Regions from separate parts of the Homo sapiens genome. Here region 1 is linked to region 2. The links come from fine-mapping of genetic effects on gene expression. A gene starts in region 2. The other region holds a variant in brackets. All regions are shown on one strand. Distances are between the middles of the regions. Region 1 overlaps NSD2 (nuclear receptor binding SET domain protein 2). Region 2 holds the start of NELFA (negative elongation factor complex member A).

Region 1 (11,481 bases), 25 kb before region 2:
ACACACGATAGAGAAAAGTGTTGGCCATGGGTGCGAGAGGGTGGTCCCTAACGTGACAGAGCTTTTACAGAGTCATGCCAGAAAGATGAATACCCAAGTTGAAAATCAGTCCCTTGGGAGAGGGCAGGTCACATGGAAATCAGCACAGCAGCCCCTGCCTGTCCACGCCGCGCTGGGGGACACTCCTGCACCCGGCACAGCTCCTCTCAGTTGCCGAAACATAAAGAGACGCTAACAGGTGGTCCTTAGGGGCCTGGCAGGTACTGTGGAGTCAACAGGCCCTGCCAGGGAGCCCGCCCGGGCTGTGGTAGACAGTTTGTCTGCCCGTCCTGTTCGCTGGAGCCAGCACTATTTTGTGTTCATTTGACCTGACAGTTGTAAGTCATCTTCAACCACGATAATGTTGAAGTCGTGATTCCATCACTTCTGTGTGCTCACATCTTGTGTTCTGTTGCAGGGAAGTGGGAATGTCCTTGGCATCATTGTGACGTGTGTGGCAAACCTTCGACTTCATTTTGCCACCTCTGCCCCAATTCGTTCTGTAAGGAGCACCAGGACGGGACAGCCTTCAGCTGCACCCCGGACGGGCGGTCCTACTGCTGTGAGCATGACTTAGGGGCGGCATCGGTCAGAAGCACCAAGACTGAGAAGCCCCCCCCAGAGCCAGGGAAGCCGAAGGGGAAGAGGCGGCGGCGGAGGGGCTGGCGGAGAGTCACAGAGGGCAAATAGCGCCAGGCGGCCGCTTGGCCGGATCCAGGGGCGGTGCAGGGCGGCCGGCCCTGCCTGCGGGAGAGGGCGAGCATGAACTGGCCCGGAGGACCCAGCTCGAGCCGCCAGGACACAGACGTACAGGCCTCCTCGGGAGGGAGCGCCTCCCCACCACTGAGCCATCCTCAGCAGCGTCCGCTGCGTCTGCACTGATGACCGTCTGAGCCCAGCTCAGCGTTCCTGGACAAACAGCCTCACTCCTCAGCGTTACCGCCACACTTGAATTTCTCCGAATGTCAAGGTTCCCTCCCACTCTATTTTTTTAGGTTAAAGTTAATTGGCATATGGAATGTTTTAATCTCCTCTGAAATGTGTAGCGTAGGCTTTTCCCAAGGGTCGCTAGAAACTCGTCTTCGCGTTGCCCCCTTTCTGGCTCTCAGCGCCGTCGCCACTCGGGAGAGGCTGGGTGAGGCCCGTGTGAGGACTGACCCTGGATTCCTCGAAACTGCCATTGTGATCATTACTCTGCTCTTTGGAAATGGCTGTATCATTTTTTTGTACTAATGTGAATTGTTCCTCAGAAACGCTTCTTTTCCATCCTAGTGAGAAGCTGGCCCTGCAGGTGGTGGCAGCAATGGTGTTGTAAGATTTCCTCCCGTAGTTTTTTCTCCTCATGGATTTGAATGAAATGCCAATAACACGTCCACTTTCAACGTGTAGTTTACGCGGAGCACTTTCGAGGCCTGGCCGGGTTGGGCCTACTTCTCACCTGGGCCTATCTTCTGAACTCGCTAGGTTCTTATCAACATTTGGGGGATAACTTTGTATATTTTTTTCATTTGGCTTTTCTTTACCAGTTTCTGATTTTTATTCTCAATATATTTTTGCTAAACCTATTTCACAAATCACCACCGACTGAAGTGTGTGTTTACTGATGCGGCCCTGAGCTCCATGGCGAAAGGAGTGACTTTGCAGGGCGTGAGACCGCAGTCTGCTTAGAGCACAGGAAGTGACAACTTAGGGAGCCCCGTAGGGCGCTGCAGGCCCCGGGGACCCCAGCACGTGGGTCTAAAGAGAGACGGAGTCTAGCTCTCCTGCCACCCAGAGTGGCTTCCATCTCAGCACTCTGTGGGTCTGGTGATGGAAGATGCAGTCTCTGCTGATCACATGTGCCCTCTGCCAGGGCACCTACTGAGAGGTGCGGTCCTGGGGGTGGAGGCCTGCCTGGCAGGTGTGCGTGCCTCGTACGTGTGTTATGGGCACTGGTCTAGGCCAGGTATGACACCCACTCTCCTGTGAGATTTCACTTTAGTTTTTAAAAGGTCCAGTTCTACAGAGTGAGACCTATCTATCTGAGTACTACATATGTTTTAAGACTTGGTTCTTTTTTTGAGGGATCCTTGACCCTGGGAAGTCTGGAGCACCCTGAGAAGGGGGCACCATGTGTGCCTTTGCCCACGTGTCCTGAGGGGCTGCTTGTCTGGGAGGGAGGGAGAGAACATTCAGCAGCAGGTGCTTTTTTATGGCCTTTTCTTAAAATAACCTAAGGGGGACACATCCATCTTGCAGAGAAGTTTACAGAACTCCCCTTGAAAACTGCTGCTGAGGCTCCTGTTAAATTTTCTGTGGCATCTTTTATGCCTTGGTAAAAACTGCAGTGTCTTTGGACCTGAGAGTGGCTACTCCGTGGTTTTGTGACCTGTAAGCGTGGGGTTCAGGGGTGTGTGGCCCTGCAGGGTCCCACGCCTCCCTGAGCACTGACTGGAAGTTTCACTGGCTGGTGGCTGTCCCTTCTCCCATCAGGGTCCCCAGCAAAGTTAACTACACAGAGGACCCAGGGGAAACGAGCTGTGTAGCCACTGACTTGCTCGCGCGGCCGTGGCCTCTGAGGGGCACTCGCCGGTTAAGACAGGGTGGGAGTAGTGCTTTCCAGTTCAGACTCTAACTTCTCCCAAAGTGTCCTAAGAAAATACTGGATCGGCTCATAGATTTATGCTCCTTATGATGCCCTAACTTGGAAGGTTGTTCTAGGGACAGGCCGGGCAGTGTCCCCACACACACCTTAGAGTCGAAGGCCCCAGGGCCCCGCTGTCACTTGCCCAAAAGATCCCTTCCGGCAGGTAAGGGACTACCAATGCTTACGTCAAAACAGCAGAATCGGCTTTGCAGTGCACTTTGGGGAGCAGATATTAACTTATTTTTGTGTTGGACAGTAGTGAAATCTTGTGATTTTTAATCGCTTTGATAATACTTCCAAATTTTATGATTTTTCTGAAGGAAATAATGCAAACATTTTAAATATGTTTCTCCCCCTTTCCAAAAACTGTTAAACTAATGAGCAAGTAACACTAACTTTGAATGTCTCTACAATACCCGTTGATAACTCAGTGGAGCCAGGCTTTGGGGTAGCGGCCCTGAGCTTGCAGGGTTTCTCGCCACTGGGGCTGACCACGCCCCCAGCTGTGACCGTGGGTGTGGCTGGCTCTCGGCCCTGCCCAGCTTTGTTCTGAGGACGTGGTGACTTCCTGAACATCAGCTTCAATCCTCCATCATTAATGTGAAGCAAAACACAAAAACCGCCCCAATCCCTCAGGATTCCTTGGCATCCGAAACCAGCATCTGCACCTAAACCCATACCCACCCGTGTGCGCCCACAGGGGGATGTGTCCGAATGGGCAGCTTAAAATGTGGTCACCTGTGGGGGAAACTCTTCAGGCACCTGAAGTGAGAACCCAGCTGTCCGTCCTCAGGCCGGCCTTTCTTCCGGCGACACCCGTCCATGGCTGGCTGGGTCCCCTTCGCAGTGTTTGTCTGTCTTGACATCTAAACCCCGGCGTGTGCAGTGCCCATCTTCCAGGACTACCTTATTTTCCAGAATTAAACCTGTTTTATAATTCAAGTTAATGCAAATGACTGTCAGTTGCCAAATATCTTGATCCTATGAGTGTAGTTGATGACTGTTTGTTAGTCAGTAGAGTAAAATGCTGTGTCCACGGGGTGTCACAGCCTCACCATACCCTGTTGAGGTGTGAAATGCCCCGTCAGAAATTAAATACAAACTTAAATGTGCCTATTGGTGTCTAAACTTCATACAATGTAAGGTCAGATTCCTTTTAGGAATACTGGGTGCTGTCACCAGGTTTGATAGTTAGACTTAAAAACTTGAAATTCACTTTTTGGGGGGAGGGATATACTGAAATAGAGAGTTGAGACTTGCCAGTTGGGGGAAAATAGCATTTAAAATGGAAAGCTGTGTTTGGAAAATTGTGTATGAGTATTTTTGTATTAAAAACATTTTAAAGGCTTTTTTCTTAACTTATTTTATATGGGATTGTTTGATTTTTTTTCCAGTTACTTTGAATTGCAAAGCATCGGGTGTGGCACTGATGCCTCCGATGGGTGGGGCTCCCTGTCCTGACTGTGTCATTTTGCCTTTGACCTGACCCGCTGGGGAGAGGCAGTGCCACCTTGGGAAGTATAACAACAAATACTGGAAATAGCAGGCATAACTGACTGACTTTGGAAAAATGCTTTCTTCTTCTTTCAGAAATAATTTGCTTCCCAAATTCCCATTAAGGGTGAAATGGTCTAGAGAGAAGGAAGCACTGCTGTCCCCCAGCCCTGCAGTCGGCTGAGCCGGGTGGTCCCCAGGCCCACAGCCAAGTAAGTCAAGGGAGTACCCCGAGGGCTGATCCTACCTGTTCCCCACCCTGTGGGCCAGGGTGTCCTAGGAAGCCCCCAGCCCTGGCCCACCCCGTCCTGATGGCCGCCTAGGGAGGGACTGGGTCCCCGGAGCAGGGAGGACAAGCTGGCCCCAAACACAGCTATGGTGGCTTTCTTTAGAAAAGCTCGACTTTAATGGTTCAGATAGTTTTACAATGAAAATAGGTACCCAAAGACTGTCTTAAATGTCCACAACTATACAAAAGATGAATACAAAACTCCCAGGCAGGCACAGGCAGGGGACAAGGCCCACCGTCTCCCACGCTCTGGTGTGGTCGGGTGTCCCTGCCGCACCCCCAGTACCACCGTGCCACCTTGGTCCCCTCAACCCTGGGGGTAGGAGGGCACTGCCCCAGCGAGGGAAAATAGAAAAGATTTTAAAAAGTAAGAGTC[T/TAACA]AACAGGCAGAGCTGTCACTAAAATTAGGAAGTTGTAACTTTTTTGGTTAATTTACTTACTACATTCAAAAATGTAACGTTGAGTCCAAAAAGTGTCTTAAATCACACAAAAAAGAACCCATATTAAAATTTTAAAAATAAGCCCCAAATACCCCAGAGAAATGCATCCAGAACTTAAAACAGGCTGGGTCAGCAGCAGGGCGGCGGCCGGGGGACCTCGGGGGCCAGGTGTCCGCCATCCGGTTACTTTAAGCTGGCAAAGCCATCGTCCCGTGGACCCCCACAAGTGACGGCCAGCTGTGAGGCAGGTGGTTCTAGGACACATTGGTCATGGGCTTGTACTTCTTGAAGCGCGTCCACTGGCCCGTGGCATAGTTCATCTCAAACACTGTGTCCACCAGCATGGTTGTGCTACCCTGGCCGTCCGCCTTGGGCAGGTCCTCCGTGTGCTCGCTCAGCTTGATCTGGATCACGTCCCCCTGCTCCTGGCACGGGTTCTCTGCAGAGAGCAGGAGCTGCTGGGTGGGTGTCTGGGGGCACCCGCCCCCAACCCGGCCCGGTGCACCCCCAGGCCCTGCCTTATGAACATACCTCGGGAGCCGGCCATGAAGCCCAGGATGAGGGCCTTCTCGGGCCGCGTGACTTTGTTGGCCGTCTTGAACATCTCCTGGGCAGCGAACATCTGCTCTCTCTACAGCGGGGAGAGGGGTGTGGGTGCCAGGGCCCCGCCAGGACCACCTCCTGCATCCCCCTGCAGGCACCGTGGCACCCCCACGCTAGGGGAGGTGGCCAGGGCCGTACCACCTACCTGGTGGCCTGTGGGCCCTACCAGTGTACACCTACCGTGAGGGACAGGTTCTTCTTAGGCTGCTGCTGAGCAGGGGCCTGGGTCTGCGGGGCCACCATGGCAACCGGGGGTGTCTGAGTGGTAGGGGCGACAGCCGGAGGTGTGGTGGGTGTCAGAGGCGAGGTGGGCGCCGCAGGCGTGGGTGTGGCAGGGCTCAGGCCGCTGTTGTACATGGGCGCCCGCTGCTTGAACTGCGCTGGCAACGTGGGGCTCGGGGCGCTGGGCTCCTCTGGTGGGCGGCTGGCTTCCCGGGAAGATGGGGCTGCAAGTAGACCGGGGCCTGGTGAGGGGGCTGGACCCCCACCCTGTTCCCAAACCCTAGTGCTCCTGGAGGTGACAGGCTCAGCTCCCCTTCTCTGTCCTGCTACCCTCTGACAAGAACTCCCTGTGGCCCCCAGCCAAGGCACAGGCCCCAGAAGCCCCAGCCAGAGGAACAAGGCCAGTGGTCTCAGGCCTTTCCAGACTCGCAGATAAGATGTCTGGACTCTGGCCAGCTGCTGGCCTGCAGCAGGTCCCCATACCGTAGGCACTGCTGGGAAGACAGGAAGGCTGTATCCTCAAGCCCCTTGGGCCCAGGACCTGGCCTGAGGTGCTGTGAGCCTGGCAGTGCCCTCCGTCTGGGAGGGGATGGCTCTCAGCTCCCCTCCCGCCTACCCAGCAACAAGAGCTGGGTCACCTGGCAGAAAACCCTTTCGAACCCAATCCCCTTCCTGCCGTGTCCCCTGGGGCCGCTGCCTGTCTGTGCCCAGGACGGGCAGGGTGGGGCAAAGCAGCTGGTTTATGTCTTGGAGCTCAAGCTGAACAGCGGGGCATCTGCCCCCAGCAGATTCTGGCTGAGGCAGAAGGGGGACAACAGAGATGCAGGAGTGAGAACCGCAGCCCTGGCAGCGCCCGTGGGCAAGGTCATGTCCTGGCAGGCAGCTTGGCTGGTTCCAGGCTGGGGCCAGCAGACTCACCTGGGGGCGTCTCGGAGCTGGGGATGTAGGAGGAGGCGGGAACCACGCTGGGCGTGGAGGGAAGGTAGCTCGTGGAGGGCAGCGCAGGCTCATTGTTCAGGGACCCAAGTTTCTGGAACACAGAGTTTAAGGTTCCTTCCAGAAGAGGCCATGCTTCCGGCATGTGCTAACACATGGCCCGACCCGGAGCTCCACTGCCACAGGCTGTGGCCCCCCGAGCTAGAGCAGGAAGGCGGGGGCCACTCTCCCGAGCTCCCTGGGCTAGACAACGGGACCCCTGGCCCCTGGCGCCCCAGCAGAGTTGGGGACTGAGCCGCTCCTGTGTAGGAGAGGGGAGGGGTTGAGGAGCCCAAACAGCCCATCTTGAGCACAGAAGGAGCGATGCTTTTTCTTACCACGAAGCGTTGATATAAAGGAAGATGCTCATGTTAAGAAACACAGAACACGCAGCGGCGGGAAGAAAGGAGCTTATTATCCTGAAGTGACCCCACAGTGTGGCCTCCTCCAGGCCCTGGCCTCAGACGACCCACTGCAGCCTCTGTGCACCTGCCGCGCCCCGTGGCTGCCTCCCACCCGCAGGCAGGGCCTGGTCTCCGGGACACTGAGGCCTCTGACCACCCAGCACCCCCACAGGCCTGTCCTGCACCCATTCACGGCCACGTGCAAGGCTTAGGTCCCACCAGCCCTGCCTGACGGGACACTGAGGCACAGGGTTGAGGAGGACTCCCCTGGCAGCCCCTCCAGCAAGCGTGGGGCAGGTTCCCGCTCCAAGCCTGAGTCAGATGCCCATGTCAGGGCACGGCCCACACTGCCTCTCATGTACATATACGTATATATACATAAATACAGACTGCACACATATGTACATACATATATATATTCTCCGACAGAGCACACTAGTGGCCACAATCGGAACAAAAGGGGCACCCGCAGTGGTGCCAGACATGGGGTGCAGCCCCGAGCCCTACCTGCGTGGACACCAGGCCGGCTGCGTAGTCCGGGGTGGCGTTCTCCACCACCGTTTCCTCCTTGGCCGGCTTCTCCACCACCTCCGCATCTGTGGACAAAACAGGAGTCCTCGCCAGTGCCCGGGCGCGTCTGCAGTGTCAGCTCAGGGCAGCGGCAGGGAATCAAACAGCTTCCCAGGGGAGGCCACCAAGGAGCGAGGAGAAAAGCAGGCACCCACCCACGGAGAGCAGCCTCACGGGGCACAGCCCTGCCCGCCGAGCGTGGGCACAACCCACCCCAACTGGGCAGGGCCCGCAGGGACCCCCATTGCCGCCGACACGCAGGCCCCAACCCCCACCGAGAGTCTTCCTTCTCCGCTTCGCCTCTCGGCCAGCGCCAACCATATCCAGCTCAGAGATGTCCAGCAGCTGCCAAGACAAGCACAGCCCTGCCTTAGTGACGGCACCAGGGCGCAACGGGCCCCGGGGTGCCACAGGAGCTGGGGGACGGGCCTACCTTCACACCTCGTTCCTTCCGCAGCAGCGTCCTGGAAGGCGGGATGGGGGTCCGGTTCCCTGTGGGGCTGAAGACGCTGGGCGCCGTGGGGCTTCTGAAGGGCGCCTGCTTCGGGATGCCTTTGAGTGGGGCTGGAGGACGGCAACAGTCAGGGCGCCAGCAGCAGTGACCGGCAAACGTCCCCCACCCCGAGCTCAGAACGTCCCACCCTCTTCTAGGCTAGCGCCGCAGAGGGGAAGGGCCAAACCCCTGGCGGGCAGCGGGCAGGACCCCCAGGATCCCGGACCTCAAGGAGCAGGGGAACGCCTGGAGCCACGACCTCACACTTTGCCAAGACACCAAACAAAGACAGCGGCACCCCAGCCCAGCCACAGGATCTCACCAGGTGGAGTCTCTCACCAGTGTGGCGGGGGCTGAGCTCTGCCTCCTTCCTGTGCCTCCACCGGCAGGGGCATGAAGCCAGGCGCCTGGGCTTGAGGGCCGCCCTCCCAAGCCTTCTCCCCGTCCCCTGAGGACACTCCTGAGGCCTACCTACGCTGTTACCCACCAGCGCCCACACGCACCCTCCAAGGCGTGCGTGGCTCTCATGGTGCCAGGCCCGGAGAGAGGACGCCCGGGGGATGGTGCCATCAGCACACCGGGCCAGGCTGGACACACTGCTCAACGGCTGGCCCACCCTCCCTGGGCCAGCAGGTGCAGCCCTGGCCCTGGGATGCCTGGTGGGGGTGGAAAGACAAGGGTCTGCTCCAGGCGGGGTAGAGGAGAGCAAGGTGGAACCTCGGCTGCGGTGGGCAGGAACATGACCCAGGGACGGCCCCCCACACAGCGACAATAGTCAGCAGACCCAAGATGCCTTCTACTAGGTCCCATGTGAACACTGTGGGATTATGGGAGCCCAAATAAACTAAGCCAGGCTGGTCTGGGAGCTGCATGGAGAGCGCCTGTAAGGCTGCCCTTTCAGCCCCACCCATCTGCAAGTTTACCCAGCTGTCTCAGCACAGGACGACACCCGTCCTGCCCTCTGGCCCCCAGGTCACTATCCAGCACCCTCTGGGGTGAGTATGCCCTGCCATGGTTCCCAGGGGCACGCCGTCTTCCTGTGATCAGGGTGCATCCTGCTTAAGCTCACGCCCAGCCCTGAGAGCACAAATCAGGAAGGGCAGATGGAGGGGTGCGGGGGGCACAGCCCCACGGGCAGCTGAGCACGGTCACGTCCTCCCCGCGGAGCCGCCCAGGGACACTCGGAACCCAAGAGCAGCACTTGGGGCCGAAAGCCCGAGCTGGGAAGGCCGAGAGCCACCGGTGCCAACAGCAGAGGAGCAGGGGCCAGCACTGTCCTCAGATCCCGGCCTTCCTGTCTCCATGCCCAGCGGTGTCCTCAGATCCCGGCCTTCCTGTCTCCGTGCCCAGCACTGTCCTCAGATCCCGGCCCTCCTGTCTCCGTGCCCACACATCCTCCCAGGGAGCTCCCCAAGGGGAGAAGCCGGTGAAATTGCCCCAGTGCCTTCGCTTTCCCACGGGCTCCCAACACTGCTGCCTGAAGACCATTCACAGGCACCACCTCCCCAACAGGGAGCGGGTCTCCAGGTGAAGCCCTTAGCTCTGCCCCAAAAGCAAGGCTCACGGCACCAGGGTGGGGGCCTTACTGGTGGTGTCCATCTTCCGCAGCAGCCCCCGGCCCTTGGCGTGGAAGGGCACCCCGGCGCTCCGCTTCAACTGCTGGGCGGTCTCCGTGGCTGGAAGGAAGAGGTCACATATGTCAGGGATCCTCAGAGCGAGAGCCCTTGGCCCTTGTAAAAACATCTCTGTCAAGTGGATTCATCCGACGGCCTGAGCCGTGAACGCTGCATTCTCTCTAAATGAGCAGCTGTTCCGAGCCGGGCCTGACACCAGCTCGCACTTTACAACGAGTCAGAAACTCACTCAGGTGAGCAAGTTTCGGGAGCTGGGTGGCTGTGGCTGCACCTCCCAGGACCCCATGGCAGGGGGGAGGCAGCCGAGGAGGAGCTGAGGGACCTCATGAGCCCTCTCCATCGACCCGGGCCTCCCCCTGGCCCAGTGGTAGCACCGTCCTCGCTGAGGGTCAGCAGGCACGGTCTAGATACAAAAATATGAGGAAGAAACAAACGAAGAGATATTCCTGACTTGGTTCAGTGTGGCTGAAGGGTCAGGGGACACCGAGTGCCCAAAGCAGACCCTGTGGCCACTGCTGGCCTCCAAAGGGGGTGGGGCCCAAGGGGCCAGCAGAGTCCTTCCTGGGCTACCCAGTGGGCCCGGGGCTGCACGGAGCCTCCCGGACAGCGCTGGGCCCTGGCTGCTGCCCGTTCCAGCCAAGATCCATGCACAGCTGCTGTCAGCCTTTTATTTGGATTCTCTGGAAACGGGGTATTGATGTACATTATAAATATTAATTCCATAACCATTCAAAATAAAACGATGTTATTGAAATCTTTGTCGTGCTTTGGGAAAACGTTAACTGAAATGATTAAATATCTTTCAAGTGGAATTGAGATCACCCGCCACTCCAGAAGGCAGCAACGTGAGAGTAAGGAACGTGCCCCTCCAGCCATTCACCCTGGCACCCACCGTGCCCAACAGCGTGACTCAGCTGGCACAGAGTTCATTTGGTCACAGAGATTAGAGATGCCTTCACCTAAAATTCTGAAGTTGGTGGGTTTTTTTTTTTTTTTTGAGATGTTGTTTCGCTCTTGTTGCCCAGGCTGGAGTGCAGTGGGGCAATCTTGGCTCACTGCAACCTCCGCCTCCCAGGTTCAAGTGATTCTCTTGCCTCAGCCTCCCAAGCAACTGGGATTACAGGCATGCACCACCACAGCCAGCTAATTTTTGTATTTTTAGTAGAGACGGGGTTTCACCATGTGGGCCAGGCTGGTCTCGATCTCCTGACCTCAGGTGATCTGCTGGCCTCAGCCTCCCAAAGTGCTGGGTTTACAGGTGTGAGCCACCATGCCCAGCCTAAATTCTGAAGTTTTTAAAGCATGTTTTCAGAACATAAAGTTTAATATAGTGATAAACTTCTAACAAAAAACTTTATGCAGAACTTTATCTTCTTTTTCTTGAGACAGGGTCTCACTCTCTCCCAGGCTGGAGTGTAGTGGTGTGATCACAGCTCACTGCAGCCTCAACCTCGTGGGCTCAGGTGATCCTCCTACCTCAGCCTTCCGAGTAGCTGGGAGCACAGGCACGCACCACCATGCCCGGCTAATGTTTTGGTACTTTTGGTAGAGATGGGGTTTCTTGGCTGGTCTCAAACTCCTGGGCTCAAACGACCCACCTGCCCCAGCCTCCCAACAGGTGTGAGCCACCATGCCTGGCCCAGAACGCCACCTTGAAGGGGCAGTCTTGGTACCTTAGAACCTAAGAAACCTATGA
Region 2 (11,940 bases):
ATCTACTCATCTGACAAAGGGCTAATATCCAGCATTTACAAGGAACTTAAACATATTTGTAAGAGAAAAACAACCCCATCAAAAAGTGGGCAAAGGAGGTGAACAGATACCTCTCAAAAGAAGACATTTATGAGGCCAATAAACATGAAGAAAAGCTCTACGTCACTGATCATCAGAGAAATGCAAATCAAAACCACAATGAGATACCATCTCACGCCAGTCAGAAGGGTGATTACTAAAAAGTCAGGAAACAATAGATGCTAGCGAGGCTGTGGAGAAATAGGAAGGCTTTTACACTTTTGCTGGGAGTGTAAATTAGTTCAACCATTGTGGAAGACAGCATGGCGATTCCTCAAGGATCTAACACCAGAAATACCATTTGACCCAGCAATCCTGTTACTGGATATATACCCAAAGGAATATAAATCATTCTGCTATAAAGACACACGTACAGGTATGTTTACTGCAGCACTGCTTAGAATAGCAAGGACATGGAACCAACCCAAATGCCCATCAATGATGGACTGGATAAAGAAAATGTGATACATATACACCATGGAATACTACGCAGCCATAAAAAGGAATGAGATCCTGTCCTTTGCAGGGACATGGATGAAGCTGGAAGCCATCATCCTCAGCAAACTAACAAAGGAACAGAAAACCAAACATTGCATGTTCTCACTCATAAGTGGCAGGTAGTTGAACACTGAGAACACATGCACACAGAGAGGGGAACAACACACACCAGGGCCTAATAGGGGTGGGAGTGAGGGGAGGGAACTTAAAGGACGGGTCAATAGGTGCAGCAAACCATGGCACACGTATACCTATGTAACAAATCTGCATGTTCTGCATATGCATCCTTTTTTTTTTTTTTTTTTTAAAGAAGAAATAAAGGCCGGGAGCAGTGGCTCATGCCTGTAATCCCAGCACTTTGGGAGGCCAAGGCAGGTGGATCACAAGGTCAAGAGATGGAGACCATCCTGGCCAACACGGTGAAACCCCGTCTCCACTAAAAATACAAAAATTAGCTAATTAGCTGGGCATGGTGGCGCGTGTCTCTAGTCCCAGCTACTCGGGAGGCTGAGGCAGGAGAATCCCTTGAACCTGGGAGGCGCAGGTTGTGGTGAGCCGAGATCGCGCCACTGCACTCCAGCCTGGCGACAGGGCAAGACTCTGTTTCAAAAAAAAGAAAAAAAAAGAAGAAGAAGAAAAAAGAAAACATTACATTAAGTGAAAGAAGTCAGGCACAAAAGACCAGATGTATGATTCTATTTATATAAAATATCCTGAATAGACAAATCTATAGAAGCAAAAAGTAGATTACTAGTCACCTAGGAGTGGGGAGGAAGAGGACTGGGCAAATGCTAATGAGTGTAGGATTTATTTGGGGGATGATGAAAATGTTTGAAAATTGACTAGCATGACCATCAAACCTGTAAATATACTAAAAACTACTGAAGTGTACATTTTAAATGGTGAACTACCTGGCATAATTATATGGTACATAAAATAATATCTTTTTTCTTTTGAGACAGGGTCTCATTCTGTCGGCCAGGCTAGAGTGCAGTGATGCAATCATGGCTCGCCGCATCCTCAACCTCCCAGGCTCAAGTGATCCTCTCGCCACAGCCTCCCAAGTAGCTGGGACCACAGCCATGTGCCGCCACCCCTGGCTAATTTTTATATTTTTTATGGAGACAGGGTTTCACCATATTGCTCAGGCTGATCTCGAATGCCTGGGTTCAAGCAATCCGCCCATCTTGGCCTCCCAAAGTGCTGAGATTACAGGCATGAGCTACTGCACCCAGCTATACATTATATTTTAATAAAGCTTTTTTTTTTTTTTTGGAGACAGAGTCTTGCTGTCGCCCAGGCTGGAGTGCAGTGGCGCGATCTCAGCTCACTGCAAGCTCTGCCTCCTGGGTTCACGGCATTCTTCTGCTTCAGCCTCCCTAGTAGCTGGGACTACAGGCGCCTGCCACCATGCCCGGCTAATTTTTTTGTATTTTTTCTTTAGAGACGGGGTTTCACCATGTTAGCCAGGATGGTCTCGATCTCCTGGCCTCGTGATCCGCCCGCCTCGGCCTCCCAAAGTGCTGGGATTACAGGTGTGAGCTACTGCACCCAGCCAATAAAGCTATTTTAAAAAAATTCATGATTAAAAGATTTTTTTTTACAAGTCTTCTAAGAAGAGAATTTCCTTAACTAGATAAAGGGTATTTATTAAAGACAACAGGAAACATAATGCTCACTGGCAAAACATTCCGAGTTCTCCCTGTGTGATCGGAGGTAAGACAATGAGCTGGAGGGTCCTAGCCAGTCCAGTGAGACGAGAAAAAAAACAAAAGGTAATTGGAGAAAGAAAAATAATATGAAGTGCACAGAAAAATCAAGGAGATTCTATAGAAAAAAAAAATTTTGCAACTAGCAAAACTTTAGCACAGATACTAGTCACAAATTCATTATCCAAAAATCAGGCTGGGCATAGTGGCTCACCTGAGGTCAGGAGTTCGAGAGCAGCCTGGCCAACATGGTGAAACCCCATCTCTACTAAAAATACAAAAATTAGCCAGGTGTGGTGGTGCATGCCTGTAATCCCAGTTACTCGGGAAGCTAAGGTAGGAGAATCACCTGAGCTCAGGAGGAGGAGGTTGCAGTGAGCTGAGATCGCGCCACTGCTCTCCAGCCTGGGTGAGAGAGTGAGATCTCCGTCTAAAAAACAAACAAACAAACAAACAAACAAAAACAAAAATCAACGCATTTCTATATACCAGCAACAAGTAAAAACTAAGACTTTAACAGATACCATTTACAACGGCATGGAAAAATATGAAATAGGTGGTAATATATGAGATGGAAGACCCCTACAGAGATCACAAAGAACATCTAAATAGATAAGCCCACACCCACAAATTATAGGATGCAATATAAAGAGGACAGCACCCCAGAATGAACTGCAAGTTCAGCTCAGCCTTAAAATCCCAGCAGGCAGGCTCTACGTGTTTAAGAAGTAAGTATATAAGATACATGTGGAAGTGTGAAGGGACAAGAATAGCCATAGATGATCCCGGAGAAAGATACAGTGGGAGGGTTTGCTCCGTCCGCTAACAAGGCTTATAAATAAAGTGACAAGAACCGACTTAGTGGGTTATTAGCACATCGATATGTAAATGACCAAAAGAACAGAGCACAGCCCAGAAACACATCCACAGCAGAAGCTGCAGTGCAGATCAATGGAAAAGGACAGTCATTTCAATCAACGTTGGGTGCTGGACTAATTGCACATCCATGTGGAAAATTAGACTCCCTGCTTCACACAATCATCAATTCCACGCAGACTGAAGATTCAAGTGCGAAAGGTAAAACTGTACAGCTACGCCAAGATAACCCAGGGAGTGTTCCGGGCATGTCCCTCGGGGAGACACAATAGGCACCAATGATAGTGGGCGGATGAATACACCATCTATGTTAAAACTAGGAGCTTCTATTCATCCATGATTCCAGGAAAAGGGCTGGGCGCACAGATCACACCTGTAATCCCAACACTATGGGAGGCCAAGGCAGGAGGATCACTTGAGGCTAGGAGTTCAAGACCAGCCTGGGCAATACAGTAAGACCCCCATCTCCATACACATGCACAAAAATTAGCCAGGCGTGGTGGCAGCGCATCAGTCCCAGCTACTACAGAGGTTTAGGAGGGAGGACTGCTTAAGCCCAGGAGTTCAAGGTTAAAGTGAGCTATGATTATACCACTAGACTCTAGCCTGGGTGACAGAGTGAGACGCTGTCTCAAAAAAAAAAAAAAAAAAAAAAAAAAGGATTCCAGGAAGCTAAGTCAAAGTCAAAGGACAACTGGGAGATATTTGTAACTGAAAAAGGACTGATATCTAGCATTTATAATAAATAATAAAAAAGACACTCTTACAAAACAATGGGAAAAAAGAGAATTTAAAAGCAGATTTGAATATACAATTCTCAAAGCAGAAAACCAAACAGCAGGCCGAGTGCCATGGCTCACACCTGTAATCCCAGCCCTTCAGGAGGCTGAGGCAAGCAGATTGCTTGAGGTCAGGAGTTCAAGACCAGCCTGGGCAGCATGGTGAAACCCTGTAGTCCCAGCTACTCAGGAGGCTGAGATGGGAAGATCTGAGGTGAGGAGGTCAAGGCTGCAGTGAGTCACGATGGTGCCACTGCACTCCAGCCTGGTTGACAGCGCCAGACCCTGTCTCAAACAAAACACAAACACAAAAACAAAACACTCTGAAAAATAATTTGGCATGATCCTATGATCCTCACAATTCCACTCCTAGATGTTATACCCTAGAGAAATCCAAGATTCCAAACACCTGAACATATGACCGTAATGTAGTAACGGGATGATTTACAAGAGCACAAAAGCTAAGCGTGTCACTGTGGCAGAATGGATAAAGTGCCTCGTGCTCACAGACAGGAATACCACGCAGCAGTGAAAATTAAACTGCAGTCAGCTGCAACGTGGATGAAACTGTCACGGCGTCGACCAAAAAGACACATGCACGCCACACACAAAATACACTATGATACCATCACACTAACTCCAAATCCGGCAACCAAGCTGTGCCATTTAGGGGTGCATAAATAATTGCTCACACCGGGGAGATGGCACAGAAATGATTACCTTTCCAAAATGAGGAAGGGGAAAGGAAGAAGGCCGTGATTACCAGTGGGAGGCTTCCAAGGAACAGGCATGGTTCTACTTCTCCACCTGTGTAAGGATCACAGGAGTGGCTCGCGATGCTATTATTATTCGTTAAACTGAACAAAAATGCACTTTTCCATACATGTCATATCTCAATCAAAAGCAATTACAACCTATAATAGCTAATAATACATCAGTAGCCAGGAACGTTTAAACAACCATGGGGCTTCAATAGTCTGCAAAACTACTCGGTTTATTTCGCACGGAAAGCGATACAATATAAAGTTTAGGAAAAAAGAAAACAAACCTCACACACCCACTTATTGGAATGACGCAAAACGGCGTGTAGAAAAGAGTAAAACGGACACAGAGCGCTCCGGACGGCCGGGGTCTTTGCGAGGTGAGAACAAGAAAATCCAGTCAGCGGACACTGGAGCTACCGAGCCCAGGCCGCCCCTTCCTCACGCGGGGGTTTCTCTCGGGATCCCCGCCCTCGCCCAGGTCACCAGGGCTGCGTCCCCGACGGGAAACCCCGATGGGAGACCCCGCTGGGGCCGGCGCACCCCCGCTCCAAGAGTCGGTCGCTTCGGCACGGTGGGGGATTAGGGTGGTGAGGACCGAAGGCGGGGGAGGCGGGGGCGGGTGGGGATGAGTACCCGGGGGCCCAGGGAGGGGAGTGAGGACCTGGGGGTCGTAGCGAGAACCCGGGGCCCGGCGGGGAGGAGATTGAGGATCCCAGGGGAGGTGAAAACTTGGGTAGGGGTGAGGACGAAAAGTAGGGAGGTGAGGACCCTAGTGGGGGATTCCCAGGGGGCGAGGAGGGGCGGGGGGTCCTGAAGACCCACGGTGGGGATGAGAACCGAGGTGGGAGATGAGGATCGAGGCGGGGGATGAGGACCCAGGGGGAGGTGAGGACTGGAGGGAGGTATTCGGAGGAGCGAGGAGGGGGCGTGAGGGCGGGCCGGGGGGGTTAACAGTCTGAAGGGGGATGGGAAGGTTGGGGGAGGGAGCGAGGAGGGTCCGGAGTTGGGTGTGCGGGTCGGAGGTGGGAAGGTTGGGAATCTGGGGGCCGCGGGGCGCCACGCCTGCCTTACCTCGTCCACCGTGCGGCGCGGGAGGTGCAGCGTCCCGAGTAGCAACTTGAGCTTCACTGCCGACGAGAGGCCATGGAAGCAGAGACGGATGTTGTCGATGACCGCGGCCGTGAGCAGGGACGCGATGCTGGGCGGCGCCCACAGCTCGTCCGTGGCCCCCAGCTTGTTGTGCAGCCACAGGCCCGTGTCGCTCTCCCGCATGGACGCCATCTTGGGGGAAAGCGCGCGCCGCTGCCCCGGCATCTTATGAAGACACCTACGCGTCCCTCGCTAGGACCCCAACATGGCGGCGCCCGTCGGGCTGCGGGCCGCAGAGGCGGCGCAGGTGGCGCGGTCCCACGAGCGGGGCTTCCCGGGAGAGCGCTTCTGGGTGGCGACCGCGTCTCCGGGTAGCGGCCGCGTCTTCGGGAAGCTTTGTGGCAAAGCCGAGAGCCGGAAGGACGGGGTGCCGCTGAGCAAGGACTATCGGCTTCCGTAAAACATCATGGCGGCGCCCTCTGCTGGCTCTCGGGAAGACCGCAAAAAATGACGTCACGAGCAGGCGCGCGTATTCGCGTCTTGGGAGCCCGGGCTGCGGCCTGGCATTCGCAGTGCAGGTGTCAAGCGCCGCAGACTTGCTGCTCGCGCGGTGGGGCGGAGGCTCCCTGTGGCACCTGCCCCGCTGTCCGCTCTTCGCTTTTTCCCCGCTTGGGTCTCGGCGCGGACCGTGTGGACGCCCCGCCCCCGCGGGCCCAGCACCTGCACGGAGAGGAGCCGCGGCCCTGCGGAGCGAGCCTGCGGGATCCCGGTCGCAGCGCTGAGCTTCCGTCCCCCGCTGAGCCCGCTCTGCCCGTGGCGCGCCGCCGACGGGGCTGCGCTGAGCATGCGGGTCGGAGGGCGCTCGGGAGCTGTCCAGGGGCACTCGTGACCCCACAGTGCAGGGAGGCCCCGGCCCCCAGTCGGGCTGGAGCCGCCAGGCAGGAGCCAGTAGTGAACTTTTCAGTTTTAAAAGCTTGTCATTAGATACAAACATGAGTAAAAGTTAAACTTCATTTTATTAAATTCGTTTTACCCTTTTGTCTTTTTGACGAGGCCTTCCTATGTTGGCCAGGCTGGTCTCAAACTCCTGGGCTCAAGCGATCCGCCCGCCCGCCTCTGCCTCCCAGAGTGCTGGGGTTACAGGTCGGGGCCGCCTTGCTTGGCTTCTGTATTATATCTTTTTTTTAAAAGATCTTTTCCTTATTGTTCCACTGCCATGCTCCTGCCGCCGTTCACAGCTATTGCCACTGGGCGGTGGGAACGCCGGGAGAACAGGGCTCAGCCCAGCTGCTAGCAGTGCCCTGGCCCTGGCGGCTTGAACTTGGCAGTCCTGCGGAAGTCACACGGGGGAAACCCGCAAATGCTACAAATCAGTGCTGGAGCGGTGGTTTTGTTGATTGCTTAAACTGAAGAAAGTGATAGAGAAAATGTTGATGATAAAGATTAAACTTAAAACTGTCATGTCGACAACCGTTACATTGCAAATAGCACATAAAATTTAAGAGAATATTTTTTAAATGATTCAAAAGTGTCGAATTCAGCAAAGACAAGTTATTGACTAATGGGTGAAGTTGTGACATCAGTGGGGCTAGTGCTGAAAGAAGTTTAATGATTAGGCCGGTCACGGTGGCTCACGCCTGTAATCCCAGCACTTTGGGAGGCCAAGGCGGGCGGATCACCTGAGGTCGGGAGTTCGAGACCAGCCTGGCCAGCATGGAGAAACCTCGTCTCTACTAAAAATACAAAACTAGCCGGGCTTGGTGGCGCATGGCTTGCCTGTAAGCCCAGCTACTCGGGAGGCTGAGGCAGGAGAATGGCTTGAACCCGGGAGGCGGAGTCTGCGGTGAGCCGAGATTTTGCCATTGCACTCCAGCCTGGGCCACAAGAGCAAAACTCCCTCTCAAAAAAAAAAAAAAAAGTTTAATAATTATAATCTGAGGGTAAGAAATAGTTTAACAGTGGACGACATATCAAATTTAGTATGAGAAGAGTGAAAGTTACTTCAAGTTGTGAAATCATGATTGAACCGTAAACATTAGTTGGTTGAAATGAAAATTTTTGTTCACAGAAACCTGTGTGCAAACGTTTATAGCAGCTTTATTTATAATAGCCCCAAACTTGAAACAATCCGAATGATTCTGACCCCCAACTGTCTGTAGCTTTCTGTAGGATACGCAGCACTTTTCTGTATACAGTGCTTGATGCATCTTGAGTCTTCAGTTTTATGCAGGAAAAATCCAAGTTAACATCTGGCTTAACCAAGAAGACAAACCACTAGGAGGACTTAGTTACAGCATCAGAAAGCAATGGATTAATATTCAGAATGAAAAAAGGAATGCTTGTAAATCGACGAGAAAAAGACCGACAATAGACAAATGTGCAGAAGATAAGAATAGGCAATTCACAGCCTGGCCATCATAGTGAAACCCCGTTTCTACTAAAAATACGAAAACAGTGGGGCGTGGTGGTTCATGCCTGTCATCCCAGCTACTCAGGAGGCTGAGGCAGGAGAATCGCTTGAACCCAGGAGGCAGAGGTTGGAGGGAGCGGAAATCACACCACTGAACTCAGGCGTGGGCCACAGAGCGAGACTCTGTCTCAAAAAAAAAAAAAAAAAAAAAAGCAATTCGTAGGAGAAACCCAAATACCGGAGAAGCACATGGAGAGATGCTTAAATTCATCAGCAACCTGACAAACCCAAATTAAAATAACAAGATGCCTCATTACACCTATCAGATTGCAAAATTAGAAAGCCAAAGTTTTTTTCATTTTAAAACATGGTATCCAGTTGTTCCCATATTATTTGTCGAAATGACGATCCTTTCTGGACTTTTCTATCCTGACTTACTCATCTATCTTTATGCCAATACCAGACTGTCTTGGTTACTATAGCTTTCTAAAATAAGTGTTGAAATCAGGTAGTGTTAATTCTCTGACTTTTTTTTTTTTAAAGTTATTTGGGTTATTTTAGGTCCTCTGTATTTCCTTTTTTTTTTTTTTTTTTTTTTTTTTTTTTGAGGCAAGGTCTGGCTCTGTTGCCCAAGCTGGAGTGCAGTGATGCAATCTCAGCTTGCTTCAGCCTCTACCTCCTGCGTTCAAGTAATTCTCATGGCTCAGCCTTGCAAGTAGCTGGGAATACAGGCATGCACCACCAAACCTGGCTAATTTTTGTATTTTCAGTAGAGACGGGGTTTCACCCTGTTGGCCAGGCTGGTCTAGAACTCCTGACCGCAAGTGATCCACCCACCTCAGCCTTCCAAAGTGCTGGGATTACAGGTGAGCCACAGTGCCCAGCCTGCATTTCCATATAAATTTTAGAATCGTTTGTCAATTTCTACAAAAAAAAAAAAAGGCTTCTGGCATTTTGAGTGGAATTGTGTTGAATCTGTAGGTCAGTTGAGGGAGAACTGGTAACTTCTGTCTAGTGAACATAGTATTTCTCTCTGTTTATTTGGGTCTTTAAATTCTCTCAGCTAGGCTCATGGCTATGTAATCCCAGCACTTTGGGAGGCCGAGGAGGGTGGATTGCTTGAGCCCAGGAGTTGGAAACCAGCCTCAGTAACGTGGCGAAACCCCATCTCTACAACAAATATAAAAAGCTGGGCTGGTGGTGCGCCTGTAGTCCCAGCTACTTAGGAGGTTGAGGTGGGAGGATCACTTGAGCTCAGGAGTTCAAGACCAGCCTGAGCCACATGGTGGGACTCTGTCTCTAAAAAATTAAAAATAAATTAAAAAATAAATTTTCTCAGCCCCATTTTGTAGTGTTCAATGTAAGGGTCTTGCACATCTTTTCAGAATTGCCTCCAAGTATTGCATAACCTTGATGTGGTTGTAAAGGGTGTTGTTTAAAATTTTTAATTTATCAGTGTTTGTCGCCAGTATATAGAAATACAACAGATTTTTGTGTGTTGATTTTGTATCCTGCAGCCTGGCTAAACGCATTTATTTGTTCCAGTAGTTTTTTCATACATTGTATTAGTTTTCTGCAAAGACAATCATGCCATTTGTGAAGGCAGTTTTATCTTTTTTTCTAATTTATTTGCCTGACTCTGCAACATAAAGAGTCCTTATTTTGGCTGGGCATGGTGGCTCACATCTATAATCCCAGCACTTTGAGAGGCTGAGGCAGGCGGGTCACCTGAGGTCAGGAGTTCGAGACCAGCCTGGCCAACATGGTGAAACCCCATCTCTACTAAAAATACAAAAAATTAGCTGGGCGTGGTGGCAGGCGCTTGTAATTCCAGCTACCCAGGAGGCTGAGGCAGGAGAATCGCTTGAAACCAGGAGGCGGAGGTTGTAGTTAGCGGAGATCGTGCCATTGCACTCCAGCCTGGGCAACAAGAGGGAAACTCCATCTCAAAATCGAGACCAGCCTGGCCAACATGGTAAAACCCCGTCTCTACTAAAAATACAAAAATTAGCTGGACGTGGTGGCAGGCGCCTGTAATCCCAGCTACTTGGGAGGCTGAGGCAGGGGAATTGCTTGAACCCGGGAGGCGAAGGTTGCAGTGAGTTGAGATCGTGCCATTGCACTCCAGCCTGGGCGACCAAAGGGAAAAAAAAAGTCCTTATTTTTACTTTAAAGCAATAAATTTTACAACTTTACTGAATTTCTAAAAAAAAACCCTAGTGGTATTTTGATTGGCTTTCCATTGGGTTTGTAGATTAATTTAGAGAGAACTGACATCTTTATATAGTATATGATACACAGACAAGCTTTCATTTTTCTTTCTTTATGATCTTCAGTAGACGTTACTATTTTTCTCCATACAGTTTTTTTTTTTTTTAAGAGAGGGTCTTACTCTGTTGCCCAGGCTGGAATGCAGTGGTGCGATCTCAGCTCACTGCAGCCTCCGCCTCCCAAGCTCAAGCGATTCTCATGCCTCAGCCTTTCAAGTAGCTGGGACTACAGGCATATGCTACCATGCCCAGCTAATTTTTGTGTTTTTCTCTTTTTTGATATAGAGTCTCGCTCTGTTGGTGAGGCTGGGGTGCAGTGGCGCGATCTCGGCTCGCTGCAACCTCCGCCTCCCGGGGTCAAGCAATTCTCCTGCCTCTCACCTTCCCTAGTAGCCTCCGCCTCCCGGGTTCAAGTGATTCTCATCGCTCAGCCTCCTGAGTAGCTGGGATTACAGGCATGCAACACCAAGCCTGGCTAATTTTTGTATTTTCGGTAGAGACGGGATTTCACCATGTTGGCCAGGCTGGTCTCGAACTCCTGATCTCAGATCCGCCCACCTCGGCCTCCCAAACTGTTGGGATCCAGGTGTGAGCCACCACACCCAGCCTATTTTTGTGGTTTGTTTGTTTGTTTAGTAGAGATGGGGTTTTGCCATGTTGGCCAGGCTGGTCTCCAACTCCTGGCCTTGAGTGATCTCCCCGCCTTGGCCTCCCAAAGTGCTGAGATTATAGGAATGAGCCACCACGCCTGGCCAGTTCTTTCTTACTTATTTTTTTTAGAGATAGCGTCTCACTCTTGCCTAGGCTGGAGTGCAGCCGTACAATCTTGGCTCACTGCAGCCTCATAGCTGAGACTACAGGCGCGTGCCACCATGCCCAGCTAGCTTTTGAAATTTTTGTAGAGATGAAGTCTCACTATGTAGAGATGACGTCTCAAACTCTTGGCCTCAAGCAATCCTCCCACCTTGGCCTGCCAAAGAGCTGGGATAACAGGTGTGCACCACCGCGCCAGGCCTCATACAGTTCCTAATCATTTTCATTAGCTTAACTCAGATGCCTTAGTGTATTTCATGCTCTTATGAATGATATCCTGTATTCTATTTTCCAGTTGGTTATTATGAATACGAGAAATACTATTTTTTAAGTTGGACATACATCCAACAACCTTTATGGACTCCTATATTTATTCTAATAGTGGGTTGATTTAGTTGGTTATTCTGAATATTTCATTTACAGACAATGACAGTTCTGTGTCTTCCATGTATATTTATACTTTTCCTTTATTATTTTTTTGGTATTGGCCAAAGATTCCAGTCCTGTTGAACATTAGCAGGGCAGTAAGAATCCTGTTGTCTTGCTTTCAGTCGTAAAGGTATATGTCCAATTTTTTTTTCACAAGGCAGGGTCTTGCTATATTGCCCAGGCTAGTCTCAAACTCTTGGGCTCAAGGGATCCTCCTGCCTCTGC

The links. PIP is the estimated chance that this variant, and not a neighbour inherited with it, causes the effect.
Region 1: its variant is fine-mapped to the expression of NELFA in gastroesophageal junction (GTEx, PIP 0.90).

What each region holds. Positions count from the first base shown.
Region 1 is chr4:1,978,181-1,989,661 of GRCh38, forward strand. It overlaps NSD2 (nuclear receptor binding SET domain protein 2), which reads left to right. Exons shown (of 22, transcript NM_001042424.3): 22 at 458-4,012. The coding sequence ends at 729. NELFA (negative elongation factor complex member A) reads right to left here. Exons shown (of 11, transcript NM_005663.5): 4 at 9,738-9,827; 5 at 8,092-8,222; 6 at 7,934-8,003; 7 at 7,596-7,684; 8 at 6,628-6,739; 9 at 5,668-5,933; 10 at 5,416-5,515; 11 at 4,543-5,323. The coding sequence ends at 5,139. It overlaps MIR943 (microRNA 943), which reads right to left and starts at 8,297; the gene lies at 8,204-8,297. The variant T/TAACA (reference allele first, on the strand shown) is at 4,825.
Region 2 is chr4:2,002,975-2,014,914 of GRCh38, forward strand. NELFA (negative elongation factor complex member A) reads right to left here and starts at 6,000. Exons shown (of 11, transcript NM_005663.5): 1 at 5,776-6,000. The coding sequence starts at 5,985. It overlaps LOC124900839, which reads right to left. Exons shown (of 4, transcript XM_047416543.1): 4 at 6,032-7,199. The coding sequence starts at 6,787. The coding sequence ends at 6,032. RefSeq lists enhancers at 5,683-6,183, 5,791-6,310 and a silencer at 6,371-6,750.